Linked DNA regions of Homo sapiens: region 1 is linked to region 2. A link means that fine-mapping ties the variant in region 2 to the expression of a gene that starts in the linked region. Tissue or cell type: whole blood. Region 2 holds a variant in brackets; the other region holds the start of a gene. All regions are shown on one strand. Distances are from middle to middle.

Region 1 (9,932 bases), 64 kb after region 2:
TTTATCTATGAAATTATTTGCTCCAACTATGTGTTAAAAAAAAAAAAACTTTCCACCCTTGCTTAATCATGCTGTAGGTGTAAGTGAAGGCTTACTGAAATGTACACTATAGGCTAAAAAACTTTGTGTTTTTAGGCATACTTCATCCAGAGCTCAGGTGTATTGATAGATTTGTCTGGGAGTTTCAGAATATGAATAAAAATAGACCTAGTATTTTATCTCTTTCTGGGCAAACAGTTACAAATTCCATAAGGCCCTTGAGTCTAGCCTATATGTCTTGATTTTTCAGTAATCTGCTACCCAGTATGTTATTAGCATGTGTGTGTGCACACGCAAGCATGCATACACACTGTTATTTGGATTAGACAGCTTTAGAAAAGCTGAGGAGATAAATACCACTTCATACTACTTTAGTAGTAGAGTTGTATAATTTAACATATTCAGACAGCTAAATATTTTCCAACCAGCTGTACTGATAATTGTTAAGTCATTGGAAAGTAGATATATTTACCTAAATATATACAATTAAACCTATTTTAAGTTTTCCAAAGGTATGACTTCATAGTACTGGAAAGCATACAAGAAGATTCTTGCTGAATTTATCTCCTTGTTAAAGGGAAGTACTCTACAGAGCTCAACATAGTGGTCGTCTTAAAGTCTAATAATGCTGACAATATGGATTGTTCAAGGGAAATTTTTTTAGTGGTTAAGAATGAACTAACATTTAACTACTAAAGTTGAATGAGTTCAGCAACATTGGCATTCTCCAGATGCATCTGTATTAGTAAAACAGAAGTGAACTTTGTTTTGCCATGAGTTTATTACTAATTAACGCATTTTGTATTGCTGCCTAGAACTTAAAACTGTCTCTGTGTTGCATTTCTTCTACAAAATGTGCTAGTGTTTCTTGTATTATTATCAATATTGCTTTTCTCCAGGACTGAAAATTTGTCCAGGGCATTATATACTTTCTTATATATTGCCCCTGTATAGTGCAGGTTAATACAACAGCTTACTTTGAAATAACAAAATACTCATATTTTAAAAAATGAGATTCAATCCTAGAACTTAGGCTCTTTGGCTTTTCTAATGAATGCCTAGTGAAAGATTAACAGTACTTCATTTCTAGAACTGCCGAATGATGTGCTATCGTAGAACTAATTTGGGTACAGTGTCTTCATTTTTACAACTAATCAGTTTTTGACTTTCATAAGCTTCAATTTTTTTTCATAGAACTACCTAAACTGCATTGTCTCCCCTTCTATACCTCTAACAGTTCATTCTTATTAATTTTCTTGTCTAATTGTTAGATTGTGGAAAGGTGGTGATAAAATCCAGAACATAGGTTTGGAAGAGAAGTAATATGCAACTTTTCCTTTAGTTCTACACATGACTCTCTTCCTTGTTTTTATACTTTTTGGTGGGGTGTGGGTAGGTGAGTGTGGGTATGTATATGTCAGAGACAAAGAAAAAGGATGGTTATGATTATATTTTAATAACTGGATTTTTAATGTAATTGAAGTATTAAAACCACTGCATTTTCATGTTGATTAGGTTTATATAATAAGTGGTTTATTTGATGAAGTGAAGGTAACTATGTGTTTAGAATAATTGGCCACAGATATAATTCCTGATTTTTAAAGTAATTTTTACAAACCTACTTGCCTGACGGAATTTCTCTCTTTTTTGGCCTTTGAATTTATAGCTCTTGGAACCTTCTCCTACTCATCTCTCATTCCATGTTTTTTTCTTTTACCCTTTCTTTTTCTTCTGATTGGCAGCAGCAAGTCTTTAGTTTCTTAAGACTTTTTATTGCCCCCATTCTTTTTTTTTTTTTTTAAGTAGGGACAGGGTCATATTGTGTTGCCCAGGCTGGTCTTTAAACAGTTTGGCCTCCCAGAGTGTTGGGATTATATGCATGAGCCACCATGCCCGGCTGCCTCTATTTTCTATCAAAATGGATGTGTTTAAGACTTTTTAAAAAATTGTGTATCTTTTGTGAACCTCAGTTCCCTCTCACCAGCCTAGAAGTTGCTGAAAGAAAGAAGAGATAGCACTCAAAGAATCGATGCCCACATTATCCTGCAGTTTCCTCTTTCTTAAGGAAATGTTTCCTTCTAGAACCTACTCAGTGAAAATATGGGTGCTTAAATACCTGAAAACCAGTGGGGAGAAAAACTTAATCTTTATAGATAAAAGATTTCAGTGTTCAGTATTAAGGCAGTCCTCTCTCACATCTTAAAAATGGTCACTATGACCTGTTGAATAAAATGAATATAACCTCAGATTATGTGACCTTCCACAGCCTGACCTAGCATGTATTCCCTTTTTAAAAAATTGCTATTCCTTACCTAAACGCCAGACAATTTAGCTCCAAATCATTTAACCAACATTTGAGTGCCTACTAAAAGTATTGAGCTAGATAATAGGGATAAAGTGGCAAATTATATTTGTTGCTGTCAAGGAACTCACCTTCTATTAGAAGCAAAGTACCCAAAAAAGTAGTTGTGTGCAGTAGAGTTATACTCTCAGGCAGTGTGCTAATTGTTTTACATTGCATTATCCCATGTAATTCTTACTACAATCCTGGTGGATGGATTATACTATCCACTGTTTCAGGCTTCTACTGGGGATCTTGGTATGTATCCCCCCGTGGTTAAGGGGGAACTACTGTATTTTGTTAACCTCCAGCACTTTACACAAAAGGGGAACTGAAAGTACCAGATGCTACATAGAAGAAAGAATGGAGTGTGTGAAGCAAGAGACTCTTCTCGAAAGGGGCCAATTTAAATCATTTCATTTCCATATGCAGCCATAACCATGTAAAAACTTCCATCCACATCATTCAATGGCTTTTATACTCTTAATTCATATTGCTAAGAAAACTTCTGGCTTATTCTTCTTGTTAAAGTTTATGAAGTGTCCTGATATGGAGGGGGGAAAATGCCATTTCTATGACATAAGCCCATTAACCCACCCAAGTTGTCAGAATCAAGAGGAGGTGTTTGAGAAATTGTTTCCTCTTTTTAAACATTTAACATTTTTCTTTTGTGTTAGTTTTTCTTCAAAACGTACAAAAAAGTACGCATCATTGTATCTTGTGTATTTACTACCAGCTTTTACTAGATAAGTCATCTTTCCATTGAAAAAGTGATAAGCTCCATTATTTTAAAAAAAACTTAAACATTCATTGCAGATGACCATTTCAAAGATGAAAATTTTTAAAGGACCCCAAACCCCACCACCCCCCAAAGTAATTCCAATTAATGCATAAATATAAATTGGATAGGAAGCTAAATAGATAGAAATGGTTTTATTAAAGTGAGATCGTGTAACAAATGCTAATTTTAACATTATAATTTCAAAAAAATACAGTTGCTCTTGATGTGGCCAAAATCTGCAAATTGTCCTGGGGGCAGGGAGAGGGGAATGTCATCTTAGCAGCAACAAAATTGAGTGATTTCTTTGGGAGGGGGAGATGGAGAGAGGAAGAACGGACTGGACTTAGGCTTCTCTGTAGCAACATTCAGTGCTAAAGCAGAGTGAAGCAAACTCTACCAGATTCTTGGGGGAGGAAGAAGCCAAGTGATTTCAAATGGAAGGGTAAATTGAAAGAGTGAGGGTGGACACTTCTTGAAAAATCTAGATGATGAAGCCCATCTAAAGAGATAAATGGACAAACATTGAGAACAGGACTGGTGGTGGTTAATTATTTAACTATGTAGCTATAGAATTATTTAAATAAGGCTATGGAAGCATATTGAAATGTTATAAATCTTGATATAGAAAAGATGATTAACAAGTTAGAAAATAGAATATCAAAGACGAGGTAATATATACATGCCCTAATTGGTTTTACTTTTCAGAATAGAAATTTTGTAAAATTGATAATATATCAAGAAATAGGGATGTAATATTCTGAATAGTTATGAAGGTAATCACCAAAACTGTAAGCCTGATAACTATTAAAATGAAAACACAAAATTAAAGATAACACAGGCCATATAAGAGAGCTAAAGGGAGAATTTACAATAGATGACAGAATTAAGACCAAACATAGATATGATGTCAAATAAGGAAAAATATGATTTAACTTATAAATGTATGAATATACAAAAACTGTTGGCAGTACCTTTGGGGAAGGGTACTAGGATTGGAAAGAAATTCAATAATTCACTGTTTTCCTTTTTGAACTTTTAAAAAATCATGTTTATACTGTCACAGTTTAGAGAAGTAAAGTGGGAAAAAAAAGCTGTTGGCCCTGGCTCCCTAGGGTTTTTACAACCAGTGGTGAAGAATGTCCACAGACATTCTTAAGCAGCAGTAGAGGTAAGCAGGTACACACATGAGCTGGAAAGATCTCAAAGCTGATTTGGATTCTTTTATCTTGCCATAAGAAATTACTTTCTTCAATCAAGGGTATAAAGACTGCTGAACTAGTTCATAATGAGGGTAGATGAAGGAGGTATCCATCTTCAAGAGTGGTAAATAGTTGACCCATACAAAGGACCAGCAGCCTCATGTGGACCCGTCTTAGCATCCTTCTCTCCTTCTACTCCAAGGGTGAAGAGTACTCGGAAGTTACTATTTATTCTCAAATCCTTGTGTCAGATTATTTTCATATCTTTCTTAGATCTGTTCTGGCTTAAGTCTTATTCTCTTATTCATGGAAATAGAAGACACTGAGCCCTTTCCCACATAAAAATATAGGACTACTGATTTCTAGAGCTTAAAGATGTTCTAACGCCTCGTTTGAAAGATTCAGAAACAGATCTAGAGATGTTAAAGTTTAGAAAAATGACACAAATAATGCCAGAAGTGGCAACAGAACTCAATTTTCCTGACTCCCAGGTTAGTGGTCTTTGTACTAAATGCAATTTCTTATCTTCCCTGAACAACCTGAGCTATGTACTTTAACAAAATTTTTTGTGGGTACATAGTAGGTGTACGTATTTATAGGGTTCATGAGACACTTTGATACAGCCATGCAACAAGTAATAATCACATCATAGAAAATGGAGTATCCATCCCCTCAAATATTTATCCTTTGTGTTACAAACAATCCAATTATACTCTTTTAGTTATTTTTAAATACACAATTAAATTATTGACTATAGTCACCCTATTGTGCTATCAAATACTAGATCTTATTCATTCTTTCTGTTTTTCTTTGACCCATTGTACTGCTAGATAGAACTCACATATTTGGTCCCTGCCTTTTCCCACCATTTGCAAATAGATTCTAGGAACGATCCTAATAGTTGCCAGGCACTGTTATCAGAGATCAAATCTGTCTTGTTTCCAATTGTGCCTGGGACATAATAGGATTTTTTTTTTTAAATAACAAAGCCATGTGTAGTGCTGCATGCCTGTTGTCCTAGCTACCCAGAAGGCTGAAGCTCAGGAGTTCAAGTCCACCCTGGGCAACAAGACTCCATCTCCACAACAAAAAAGTTTAAAAAGGTTACTATACGATTACTATACATTGTATGTATCAAAATATTACTCTCTCCCCCATAAATATGTACATTATATATCAATTAAAAGGAAGTAAATGGTGAGCATCCTTTCACTATGAAGAAAAGTTCTCCATATGCCCCCTACTTTCTTCTGTTTCATTTTTATGGAGACCTCTAAACAAAATGCTTTTCTCATAGATATGGAGGGACTCCTAAACAGGTTTTCTGCTTGAGAAAATCTTGATTTGAACTCCACGTATCATACACCATCAGGCAAAAAACCTCGCATTTACGTTGGAGAATACAGTCCAGAAAAAGAACAAAACCTCAAGTGTGGGCAGAAGATTGTGTGTATTTGCTATTAGGGAGGAGAGCTCAGGTTCCTTTTCTCTACAGTGACCATTAGACATTCCAAAGCACTGTCACTTGGTGTAGCTCAGTGCTCTTGGTTACTGAAGCAACAAGTGATCTCTGATGACAAAACAAAGGTAGGGTCGTGCCTAACACTGGTAAGGAGAAAACTGTGTCGAGTTAGTTAATAATTAATTTACATGTCAAGTTACAAGTTTTCTATCCTAAAATCCAAAAAAAGCAACAGCTCTTTTTTTTCCTCCAGTCATTAAATCACCCATTCAACAAACTTTCACCAGGCTCATGGTTTGTCAGCTATAGAAGAGAAAGGAGGGCGAAACCTGTGGTTAAGGCTTGCCTGAAGGATCTCACATTTGGGTTGGGGGCTGACATGCCAGTGAACAAATAGCCTCCTCAGGACTATGATAGAGGTATTTACAAAGAACTATAAGAGGACTGTATATTAAGTGTTTAGGGATCTGAGAAGTTTCAAAGAAATTGTGGCATTTGAACTGGATTTAAAGAATAAGGCTCAGGTACAACTTCATGTGAAAGAGTCGATATATTCACAAATTTGCCAAAGCCCAGTTAACTTCAATTCTTCGAGAGTTCCAGTTTTTTCCCAGGTGCAGTCAGTGTACCATTTTTTTCTGAGACCCACAGCCATTTTCTTTCATTGGCATGTTTTTAGGTTTATTTTTCAATAACTCCAGTACCCCTGAAATTTCCTTCCTTAGATCTTGAATAAATATATTCAAGTTGGGCATTACTGCATGGTTTGAGGATAATGTCTTTCCTGTTAAAAATATTTTTAAGTTTTTATACAAAGGTAATGTATGTGCTTGGTAAAAGAGAATGAATATAAAATGAAAAGCTATAATCTGCTACAGCCCCACCCAGCAGTCCCTTTGTCCAGCCATAAACAGAAAATAACAGAACTGTACTCATTTCCAAACTAAACACATCATTCTGCTCCTTGCCTTTTCTGCTTACTGTTTAATAACTTAGAGATAATTCTTTTTAATAGTTAACTAGATCTCTGTATGGATGTGCCACAATTTTTAAGCCATTCCTCTATTGATAATTGAGTTGGATACTTTTATTATAATTATTGCTGCACTGAACATCCTTGAAATGATTGTGTGGGTACAGCCATAGGATAAGTTCCTAGCAAGTAATTGCTGAGATAAAGAATGTATGCATTTAAATATTCATAGATACTGCCAAATTGCCTTCTTAAACTGTACTGTACTACCTTATACTACTACTCAACATTTGCGAGTATATTTTCCTGCCCCTTTTACCAAAGTTTTTGATTATTGAACTTACTAGTTTTATCACTGCATTAATATCTGATAATTGTTGATTTGTACTTAAGGTTTGAGTTTTTTTTATACATTGGTAATTTGCATTTCATCTTCGCCAGTTTTTAATATTGAATTACTAGGGTTTTTAAAAATTTTTATAAACTCTCTGAATATTGGTTTATTTATATGTATTAGAACTGTTATGATTATTTCGTACTTGTTTTTTCCCCACACAAACCAATTAATCTTTTCTTAGGGCTATTGAATTGTGTGTCTTGCTCACACCAAGGTTTATTTATAATATGCTTATGTTTTCCTCTTACTTTCATAGTTTCATTTTTTGTGTTTATATTTTTGATCCCTCCAGAATTTATTTTCTTATATGGAGTGAGGTAGGAAAATGGCTACCCGTTTGTTGTAATACACTTTATTTGACGATCCTTTCTTTCAACATTTATTTTAAATCACCATTACCCCATGATATTTCATTATCGGTTTGTGTATAAACTGTATTCTGGTCTGCTTATCTGCCTATTTCTTGTGCAGTACATTGTTTTAATGATTTCAGATTCATAACACTTAATAACTGACAGAATGAATTACCTACTTAAACATTTCGTACAGACACTGTGGTGGATTCTGCTACATATCATGGCATTATGCCATGAATGCTTTCCAGCATTACTGGCAGAAATAGCCACCCTTAAAATATGCCCCTCGTGATCCTCAGCGGTTCCCAGGGTACAGTGTAATGTGTACCCAGAAATGGGTTGCCCTCTTGCCCATTCCTGGGCTGCCTCCTAGGGACAGTGACTCCAGTTAACTTGCTGCTTCAGTGGGCACTACCATCTTCTGCTGGTGACTTCTGTCATCTTGTTTGACCCTGGGGAAAAGACTTATTTTCCTCTTTGTTGCCCACAGTAGAGACCAGACTTTCCTGACCGTTCCAGAATAATGAAAGAAAGGGTCCAGATAGTACTTTATGAGAGCGGCCAAGCTCCAGTGGAATCCTCTCCACCCTTACCAGGCTACTGCTCTGCCCTCTTTGCTACCTGTTTCCAGGTCACCAAAGGTAGTTCAGCTACCCCACTAGAAACCTTCAGTTATCAGCACTTCTTTAGAATTGGAGCCAAATTGACATCTGCACTAAAAGAAATGAGGAAGGTTTCCACTCACCTAACACTCTGGACACCCTCCTCCCAAAATTCCTGCTGAACCAACCTCTCCCCTGGGAAACTGGCAGTGAAAACATTTAGTCTTTTCAGAGGAAATTACACCTTTACTCAGAGAAACGTGGTCTGGATTTTGGATCTGCAGCCCCAGTAAGAGAATTGCCTAATGATCTGGTATCAGTTAGTACAATCAGGCCCTTCATATCTGTGGGTTCCACATCCATGAATTCAGCCAATCGTGGATCAAAAATATTCAATAAAAAATAATATGACAAAAATATAAACAATACAGTATAACTGTTATTTCCATAGCATTCGTATTAGGTATTATAGAGATGATTTAAAGTATGCAAGAGGATAAGCATAGGTTATATGCAAATACTATACCATTTTATATAAGAGATTTAAACATCCATGGGTTTTGGTATCAGAGGGGGTCCTGGAACCAGTACCCCAAGGATACTGAGGGACGACTGTCTATTTCGCAGTCTGTATTGTTTTTACAAGTGGGGCAGCAACAACCAAACCCAAATGAGGCCGCATCAGGCTCAGCCCTGTTCCTATTTTGTCTCCCTGCACTAAGGGTTTCAAGCATGTCTTAGGGCTGTGGTCAGCTTGTTAACACAAATCAGCCTTGAAACCTAACAGAATGTTACTTTACAATTTCCTGTTACTATGTTCCTTTTTAAAGTAAGCTACTTCCAAATCGATCTTCATCCTTTTCAAAATACCAAATTTCGGAAATGGAAGGGGGAAAGGAATGGGGGAAATACAAAGTGAAATCACCTGTATTTTCTTAGGGACCCTAACTTAGACATGACCAGCTATTTCTGAGATTCTTAAGTAAACTGTTTTTTCTCTCTGAAAGTCTGACAGTCTCTGCCATGTCAAGCTCTTTATTTCATGTCTTATACTTAGACCCACTCAGGCTACTTGGACAAATGCTCAAATAAGTTGACCAAATGAAAAACGTGTTCAGAGGTTGAGTGACTCAGAGTGAGAACAAGTGAAGCAGAACTGAGTGGTGGAACTTAACCTGCGCCTGAAGTTTTGAAACACATCAAGTCTAGTCTTCTGTATTTTAATAATATACAGACTTAGAGGGTGGAAAGAGATAAAGTGTTATGTGCTCATAAAATCAATTTATAAGTGACCTCATAGGGTCAATCACCTCAAGATAATATAAATTCATGATTTAATATATTAATGTAACCTTTGCTATGTATTAATCAGTATAAATTTATAATTCAGTAGTCTACAAATCCTAAACTTAGAGAATATTTTCTGAATTTGCTCTTTGATTACTCCACGTCTCTGCATAGAATTTTCTGACACTCACTCATCAGGATGTGTTTATAAAGGGTTTTCTTTCTTCCTCTTCACATTTAAATGATATAGAATTACCCAAACTTCCTGTTGCTACTGAAACTGAAGCAAGAGAAGCAAGGGAAATTGAAACTGAAAATGTGAACCAGCGACTTTACCCAGAAGCACAGTTGATGGCATCAATGAGATCAATTTTTTAATGAAATTAAAGAAAGTAGAGGTTTCAGCTGACACTGTTTTTCTCCAGACTCTCTACTATGCGGCAGGATGGTAGTTGTTTCCTCTCAACGGAGCTAAAAATTAACTTCATCCTATGG
Region 2 (9,932 bases):
AGAGGGAGAAAAAAAATATATAAAGAAACTGGTGTTTGTGATTTAGGGAAGCACATAAGAAGGTGGGGGAAACTGAAAGGAAAGTCTAAATAAATTATCTAGCACCTGTAGTATGTGCTGCCTTGCACATTGAAGGGGCGTGTTGGGGGCAACGAGAGGCAATATTAGGGAGATTCTGGAATGGGAAACCTGTATATTAAAGCACATTTAAACGGCTAGATGTTGGATAATAGGCAGAATTTGAAATTAAATACAGCTTGGCATAGTTATTTGCATTCTTGGTCATTGTATTTTCTAGGGCTGCGGTAACAAAATACGACAAACTGGGTGATTTAAAACAACAGATTTATTGTCTCAGTTCTGGAGGCAAGATGTCTGAAATCAAGATGTAGGTATGGCCATGCTCTCTCAAGGTTCGAGGGGAGAATCTGTTCCATGCCTCTTAGCTTGTTGTGTTACTGCCAATCCTTAGCATTTTTTGGCTTGCAGCTATGTCACTCCAGTCTGTGACTCTGTTATCACAACATAATCCCTGTGTGGCTCTGTCTTCAGATGGTGTGCTCCACTTCTTGCAAGGATACTAGTCGTATTGGATTAAGATCCACCCTAATCACCTCATCTTAACTTGATTACATCTGCAAAGACCCTATTTTGAAATAAGGTCACGTGCAGAGGTACTGGAATTAGGACTTCAACCTATCTTTTGTGGGGACACAGTTTAACCTGTAACAGTTGCACGGTTTATCTTTTACATCGTTCAGTAAATGTTTAGCATTATAGACTGAATCAGAGGCTATAGTGGAAACAGGATGGGACACTTACATTTATTTACATATATCAGTGATGTCTTAATCTGTTTTCTGTTGCCTCTAGCAGAATATCTGAAACTGGATAATCTATAAAGAAAAGAAATTTATTCCTTACAGTTAGGAAGGCTGAAAAGTCCTGGTTCAGGGGGCCACATCTGGTGAGGGCATTTGCTGGTAGGGACTCTGCAGAGTCCTGAGGATAGCACAGGGCACCACATGGTGAGGGGGCCGAGCATGCTAGCCCAGAACTCTTTCTTTCTTTCTTTCTTTCTTGTAAAGCTACCAGTTCCTTTCCCATGATAACCCATTCATGAGGGCTGAACCCTTAGTACCCAGTCACCATTTAAAGACTCCAGCTCTCAATACTGCCACAGTGGTGATTAAGGTTCAACATGAGTTTTGGAGGAGACAAACATTCAGACCACAGCAAGTGCTTACTATGTGCCAGGTCCTGGAGATAAAACAGTGGATAGGCAAAAATCTCTGTCCTCATGGAGCTTACATTCTGAAACACGGGTTCTAAAAATGTGGTCCCTGGATCTGCAGCATCATCATCACCTGGGAAGTTGTTAGAAATTGAAATTTTCAGGCTCCATCCCAGAACTCTTTATTTAACTAGCCTTCCAAATGATTCTGATGGAGACTCAGGTTTCAGAACCACTGATCAAGATGGAAAAGAGACAGTAAACAAGATGAATAAGTAAAATAATATTTGATATTAATAGGTGCTGTGGGTAAGCATAGGGTGGCCAGTGAAGACTCCTGAAAAGTAAAGACCTGAAGGAGTTGGAGAGTGAGCCATATGAGCACCTGGGTGCGTGTTCTTAGCAGAGAACAGTTAAGTGTGAAGACCCTGGCACGTTTGAGGAATGACAAGCAGTTAGTATTAGGTTCAATCTATGAAATTGCTGCTGTTTGTTCATTTTTGACCTACAAAAACACCAAATACTGGGGAGAAGAGATCAGAAAGAAAGGGGTGGAGTAGGATGCAGATTGTGGGTAGATCCTTGTAAGGTTTTGGCTCTCTAAGATTAGGAAGACGGGAGGGTTTTGAGCAAATGAGTGATGTGATCTGATTTCAGTTTTAAAAGGATCATTGTGGCTATTGGTAAAAATGGGCCAAAGAAGCAAAGGCTAAAGGAAGGGGAAAGTTGGTTAGAATGTTGTTGGAGTAGTTAAAAGACAGAGAGGTTGCTCAGACCAGGGTGATAGCAGTGGAGAAGTCAGAAGAGGTACAAGACTAAAAACGCACAGTAAATGGTTTGAAAAGTAAGTTTTTTTCATCCCACTCCAGTTACCCAGTTGTCCTCCTCAAAGGCAATTAGTGTTAAAAGTAGTCTTATCTCTATTCTTCCTGAGATTTTTTTTTTTTTGAGACGGAGTCTCACTCTGTCGCCCAGGCTGGAGTGCAGTGGCGCGATCTCAGCTCACTGCAAGCTCTGCCTCCTGGGTTCACGCCATTCTCCTGCCTCAGCCTCCCCAGTAGCTGGGACTACAGGCACCTGCCACCATGCCCAGCTAATTTCTTTTTTTTTTTGTATTTTTAGTAGAGACAGGGGAGATCTTTTATGTAAATGTGAGAAACAGTTTTAACAAATTAGTGGAGAGGTTGTTACCTGGAAACATTTAGCAATGTCTACAGACATTTTTGTTTGTCACAACTAGGGGGAATACTACTGGCATCTAGTGAGTAAAGGCCAGGGATGCTGGCTAAATATCCTACAGAGGACCGGACGGCTTCCACAACAGAGAGTTATCCAGCTCTTAATGTCAGTAGCGCCAAGGTTAAGAAACCTTAGTTTAATGGGATTTACAGAGGTTGGTGGGAAGCAAGTGTTGTAGTCAGAGAAGACAGTAGGAAGAGGAGCTGACCATATTGGGAACCTTTCAGTAACTGTAGACAGTTCAGGATTGCTGAAGCAGACATAAATTATAAGGCACAGAATAGCAAAAGACGAGGCTGGAAACCTGGACAGGCTCTAGGTCATAGCCTTTATTTATATATCATGTTAATAAAAAATGTTTAGTTTTTGTCTTGTAGGCAGTGGAGTTCCGTGAAAGGATTCATGGGGTGACATGGTCAGCTTTTCATTTTAGAGAGCTCATTCTGGTGACGGGGTATGAGTTAAAGAGGGATAGCACTTGAGTCAGAGAGGTTAGATATTGTAATAGCCTGTGGGGAGAGAGGAGAGTCTGAAATAGGATAAATACTAGAAATGGAGAGGAGACAATGGATTAGAATAATATTTAGGAAGTAATGTTGGCAAGACTTGGTAATTGGATTTGGGGTGAAGATAAGGGAAGCATTAAGAATATCTGTGTACTTTGTAGTTTAGATAATCCTGTGGCTCTGAGTGAAATAGGAACCCATTGGTGAATAATTTAGGTAATTACCAGTAATTAAGGTAAAATGAGCAGAGGAAAGTAATGAGTCACTTTGGAGGTGTTGAATTAGAGATGCCTATGGTCCAGGTGGAAGTATTTAGCAGGCATTTGTGTATGTGAATCTGAAACTTGGAGAAGTCTGAAAGGATCAAGAGATCATTTTGTTTGACAAGTGTGGAGAAATTAGTGGACTTTAATTTTTATCATATTATTTCACTCTGTAGATAAAAATTGCCTCCCTTTATTTAATTTTTATCAGAAAAGTAATGTGTGTACCCGATGCAAAATTAAAACATCAAAAGGTTATAAAATAAAAAAAAATTTGTCCTTCCTTGCTCATGCCACCCAGTGCTAGTTCCCAGAGATAGCTCTTGTTAAATATCATATGTATATATATCTTAACAGATTTTAAAATATATACAGAAACATTTAAAAAGCCAAGTGAAATCATACTAGAAAATATTTCGGTACATTGTCTTAAAAAATAAACCTTTTATCTTATACAGTTGTTAAAATGAATGACATTGTGTTATGGATAAAATAAGTGAAGGGGTAAATTAAAGTGCAGACTAACCGATAAGCATGATCTCTGATGTAAATTAAAAGCTGAACATACATATGTGATGATATAGGCATTACCCAACGATACGAAAGCAGTTACTTTTGGGGAGAGATAGTGGTAGAGATGGTAAAGAAAATTTACTCTTTTCTGTCTATGATTTTCTTTCATTTGTTTAGGTTTGTTCCTTTTGTTTTCTTTACATTTTCTGATGTTTAAAAAAATACCCAGTATACCTTATTAACAATAAAAAGTAACCTTTGTCAAAAGCACAAAGATTTTCCCTATCAGCACATGTAGATCATTGTTTTTAACAGCTACTACTATTCTATGCTATGGCTCTATCTTTTTTTTAAAAAACTGGTTCCTCATCAACAGACAGACGTCTTATGGTTATGGCTGTCGAGCATCTTGGCTGACTTCTATGATTATATCTGTAAAATAAGTTTCTGATCATGAAGTGATATATCAAGGCATAATTAGTTAAAAATTTAAAAAGATGTTGTGAAATGCCCTTCCAAAAGACAGTAAAAGTATGTATTATGAGAAAGAATACAGGACTACCAGTTTTCTTGTATCTGTGTCAATAACAGCTGTTAATAAACTTTAAAAGTTTTGCCAATATGTTAGGTTAAAAATAATATCTCTTCATTTGATTTACCTTTGTGAGTGAAATTTGAACATCGTTGACCATTTTTTACTGTGAATCTTTTATTTTCTTTATCTGTTTTTGTATTTGGTTAACTATCTTTTTTATTATTTATGATACTTTTTGGTTCTTTTTGCTGTACATTAAAAAAATATATTTCATAAAGAAATATGCCCTTTAACCAGCGACTTCATTGCCAGAAGTTTATCCAATGAATAAACTCATAGTGTTTTAATAGTCACAGCTTCTGAGTGTGGGAGAGATCTCAATTCGTAATATCAAAATGCAAAAATATATTTTCTTCCAGTTTTGTTTTAATTCCATTTTCTAAAATACTGAAATCTTAGAAACATTTGAAATTGTTACTAGAAAGTAAGGATCCAGCTGGTTTTGTTTTTTTTTCCCCAAAAGATTAATTAATTCAATACCATTTCTTCAATAAGCCACCTTTTTCTTGATTTGAAATGCTGTTTATTATGTATTAAATTTCCACATGAATTTTTGTTTTCCATAGAGTCTTTATTTCAACCTGATGAAGTCCCTTTATAAGATTCATCTGGTAGAGACCACCAGGGACACATCTGTAGGCTGACAAAGGTTAATTAGCTTGCTGCAGTGAAGGAGACTTGCACAGCAGAGGAAATGTCAGCATTTCTAAAGAAGGAACCAGGGTTATTATAGGATTTTGGAGAATGGTGGAGTTTGGA[T/C]AAAGTTTAAACGCAACAATATTTGATAAGCTTAAAGCACGGCAAGACTGTGTGTCAAGGGTTAATAAACATCAGGCCTGGGCTGAGAAGCTGACTCAGGATTCTGATTCCCTGGAGACTACAAAATCGCGATACATGTGGAATGTTGTGTCTGGAAACCCCTTATCTGAAGCTCTGAGTTGCAAAGTGAGGTTGCTTCTGTTTCATAATGATCTACCATCAGTGCGAGAGTGGGATGTTCCATTCTCACTTTATAAAATTTCAAATAACATAGTTTCTGACAGTCTGATGTAGAGAACAGTTTCTCAGCACATTGTCTTTAGTATTAACAAATGCATTTTTTTAAACAGACTGAGAGTTTGTTCAGCATAAATACCAAATTGTTTTCATTACCTTTTTTAAGGTAATATATTTTTATATGTAGTAAACTTTGTCTCTTCCCCTTCCCCAGTTCCCCTTTCAAGAGTTTTCCAGTGATACTCACCTATTTTTCCAGATAACATTTAGAATAATTTTTGCCACATTAATTTTTTAAAATCTTTTTTATAACTTAAAATTGATCAGATCAGATTAGTACACCCCTTCCCACAATGCCCCTTTCCAGAATTTCCCAGTTACACCCACATGTTTATTGGTCCAAAGTTTTAGAATACTTTTTGCCAAGTTATATAATTTTTTAAAATCTTCCTGTGTTTTAGCTGGGATTACTTTACATACAGGTTAATTCGGAGGAAATCAACATCATTATCATTGATACCTTTTTTTTTCCAAACTTTTTAAAATTTTGGTAAAATACATACAAAGTTTACCATCATAATCATTTTTAAGTTTATAGATCAGTGGTATTAACTACATTTATATTGTTGTGCAACCATCACCGCTGTTTATCTCCAGAACTCTTTATTTTGTAAAACTGAAGCTCTATATCCGTTTAAACGATAGCTCTCCATTCTCACCTTTCCACAGGCCCTGGAAACCAAAAGCCTACTCTGTCTCTGATTTTTCACTACTTTAAAGTACTTCATGTAGGTGGAATTGTGCATTATTTGTCCTTTTGTGATTGGCTTATTTCATTTAGCAAAATGTCCTCAAGATTCATTCATTTTGTAGCATATATCAGAATTTCCTTACTTTTCAAGGCTGAATACTATTCCATTGTATGTAAATACATTTTGCTTGTTCATTCATCCTCAGTGAACACGTGGTTTGCTTCACATTTTAGCTCTTGTGAATACTGCTGCAATGACCATGAGTGTACAAATACTTTCTTGAAACCCTGCTCTCATTGGGTATATATCCAGAAGTGGAATTGCTGGATCATATGGTAATTCTATTTTTAATTTTTTGAGGAATTTTCATACTGTTTTCCATAGCAGAAATAACATTTTACTTTCATACCAATAGTATACAAGGGTTCCAGTTTCTCCACATTCTCTTCAACACTTAACAATTTTCTGAATTTTGATGGTAACCATTGTTATGGGTATAAGGTAGCATCTCATTGTAGTCTTGATTTGTTTTGCTAATGATTAGAGATGTTGAGTATCTTTTCATCTGTTTATTGGCCATTTGTGTATCTTAGGAGAAATGTGTATTTGAGTCTTTTGCACATTGTTGAATCAGGTTGATTTTTTTTGTTTGAGTTTTAGGAATTTTCTATATATTTTGGATACTAATCTCTTATCAGATAATACGATTTGCCTGTATTTTCACCCATTCTGTGGCTTGCCTTTTACTGTTGATAGGGTCTTCTGGTGCACAAATTTAAAAATTTTTCATCAAATCTAATTTGCCAATATTTTCTTTCAGTGACTCTGCCTTTGTTGTCACATCCAAGAAATCATTGCCAAATATAATGTCATGAAGCTCTTTTGTTCAATGTTCTAAGAATTTTATAGTTTTAGGTCTTATATTTAGGTCTTTGATCCATTTTGAGTTACTTTTTCTTCTTTTTTTTTTATTTCAATAGGCTTTTGGGGAACAGGTGGTGTTGGGTTACATGGATATGTTTTTTGGTAATGATTTTTGAGATTTGGGTGCACCCCTCACCCAAGCAGTGTACACAGTACCCAATGTGTAGTCATTTATCCCTCACCCCCTCCCACCCTTTACTTCAAGTTCCCAAAGTCCATTGTATCATTCTATGCCTTTGCATCCTCATAGCTTAGTTCCCATTTATGAGTGACAACTTACAATGTTTGGTTTTCCATTCCTGAGTTACTTTACTTAGAATAATGGTCTCCACCTCCATCCAGGTTGCTGTGAATGCCATTATTTCATTATTTTTTATGGCTGAGTAGTATTCCGTGGTGTGTGTGTGTGTATATTATACATACCACATTTTCTTTATCCACTTGTTGATTGATGGGCATTTGGGTTGATTCCATATTTTTGCAGTTACAAATTGTGTTGCTATAAATGTGTGTTCAAGTGTGTTTTTCGTATAATGACTTCTTTTTCTCTGGGTAGATACCCAGTAGTGGGATTGCTGGGTCAAATGTTAGATCTACTTTTGGTTCCTTAAGGAATCTCCACACCATTTTCCATAGTGGTTATACTAGTTTACATTCCCAGCAGCAGTGTAAAAGTTTTCCCTTTTTACCACATTGATGCCAACATCTATTATTTTTTGATTTTTTGATTATGGCCATTCTTGCAGGAGTAAGGTGGTATTGCATTGTGGTTTTGATTTGCATTTCCCTGATAATTAGTTGTGTTGAACATGTTTTCATATGTTTGTTGAACACTTGTATATCTTCTTTTGGGAATTGTCTATTCATGTCCTTAGCCCACTTTTTGATGGGATTGTTTGTTTTTTTTCTTGCTGATTTGTTTGGTTTTTTTGTAGATTCTGGATATTAGACCTTTGTCAGATGCATAGTTTACCAAGATTTTCTCCACTCTGTGGGTTGTCTGTTTACTGATTATTTCCTTTGCTGTGCAGAATCTTTTTAGTTTAATTAAGTCCCATCTATTTGTCTTTGTTTTTGTTGAATTTGTTTTTGGGTTCATGGTCAGGAAGTCTTTGCCTAAGCCAATGTCTAGAAGGGTTTTTCTGATGATATCTTCTGGGACTTTTATGGTTTCAGGTCTTAAAAGATTTAAGTCTTTGATCTAATCTTGAGTTCATTTTTGTGTAAGGTGAGAGATGAGGATCCAGTTTCATTCTTCTACATGTGGCTTGCCAGTTACCCCAGTACCATCTGTTGAATAGGGTGTCCTTTCCCCACTTTACGTTTGTGTTTGCTTTGTCAAAGATCAGTTGGCTGTTAAGTATTTGGCTTTATTTCTGGGTTCTGTATTCTGTTTCATTGGTCTATGTGCCTATTTTTATACCAGTACCATGCTGTTTCGGTAACTATAGCCTTTTAGTTTAGTTTGAAGTCGGGTAATGTGATACATCCAGATTTGTGGGTTTTGGGGGGTTGTTTTTGTTTTTGCTGAGTCTTGATTTGGCTATGTGTGTTCCTTTTCAGTTTCATATGAATTTTAGGATTGTTCTCCCTAGCTCTGCAAAGAATGATGGTGACATTTTGATAGGAATTACATTGAATCCGTAGATTGCTTTTGGCAGTATGATCATTTTCACAATATTGATTCTACCCATCCATGAGCATGGAATGTGTTTCCATTTGTTTGTGTCATTTTCAATTTCTTTCAGCAGTGTTTTGTAGTTTTTCTTGTAGATGTCTTTCACTTCCTTAGGTATATTCCTAAGTATTTTATTTTTTTTTTGCAGACATAGTAAAAGAGTTTGAGTTCTTGATTTGATTTGCAGCTTGGTTGCTGTTAGTGTATAGCAATGCCACCGATTTGTGTACATTAATTTTGTGTCCTGAAACTTTACTGAATTCATTTGCCAGTTCTAGGAGCTTTTTGGATGAATCTTTAGGGTTTTCTTGGTGTATGATCATATCATCAGCAAACAGCAACAGTTCGACTTCCTCTTTACTGATTTGATGCCCTTTATTTCCTTGTCTTGTCTGATCCCTCTGGCTAGGACTTCCAGTACTATGTTGAATAGAAGTAGTGAGACTGGGCATCCCTGTCTTGTTCCAGATCTCAGGGGAAATGCTTTCAACCTTTCTCCATTCAGTATAATGTTAGCTGTAGGTTTGTCATAGATGGCTTTTATTACCTTAAGGCATCTCCTTTCTATGCCAATTTTGCTGAGTGTTTTAATTATAAAGGGACACTGGATTTTGCCAAATGCCTTTTCTGTGTCTATTGAGATGATTATGTGATTTTTGTTTTTAATTGTTTATGTGGTACATCACAATTATTGACTTGGGTATGTTAAACCATCCCTGCACGCCTGGCATGAAACCCACTTGATAATGGTGTGTTATCTTTCTGATATGCTGTTGGATTCGGCTAGCTAGTATTTTGTTGAGGATTTTTGCATCTATGTTCATCAGGGATATTGGCCTGTAGTTTTCTTTTTTTTTGTTATATTATTTACTGGTTTTAGTATTAGGGTGATACTGGCTTCATAGAATGAATTAGGGAGGGTTTCCTCTTTCTCTGTATTGTGGGATAGTGTCAATAGGATTGGTATCAGTTCTTCTTTGAATATTGGATAGAATTTAGCTGTGAATCCATCTGATTCTGGACTTTTTGTTTGTTGGCAGTTTTAATTACCATTTCAGTCTTGCTGCTTGCTGTTGGTCTGTTCAGAGTTTCTATTTCTTCCTGGTTTAATCTAGGAGGGTTGTATGTTTTCAGGAATTCACCCATCTCCTCTCGATTTTCTAGTTTGTGAGCATAAAGGGGTTCATAGTAGCCTTGAATGATCTTTTGTATTTCTGTGGTATCAATCTAAT

Evidence for each region.
Region 1: LINC03016 starts here. The variant in region 2 is fine-mapped to the expression of LINC03016 in whole blood (INTERVAL, PIP 0.97). The same link has a PIP of 0.9 or more in neutrophils.

What each region holds. Positions count from the first base shown.
Region 1 is chr7:7,249,232-7,259,163 of GRCh38, forward strand. It overlaps LINC03016 (long intergenic non-protein coding RNA 3016), which reads left to right and starts at 5,923. Exons shown (of 4, transcript NR_108073.1): 1 at 5,923-5,947.
Region 2 is chr7:7,185,086-7,195,017 of GRCh38, forward strand. All of the region lies in intron 1 of C1GALT1 (core 1 synthase, glycoprotein-N-acetylgalactosamine 3-beta-galactosyltransferase 1), which reads left to right. Among named protein-coding and RNA genes, the nearest start is that of C1GALT1, 7.5 kb to the left of the region's middle. The variant T/C (reference allele first, on the strand shown) is at 5,110.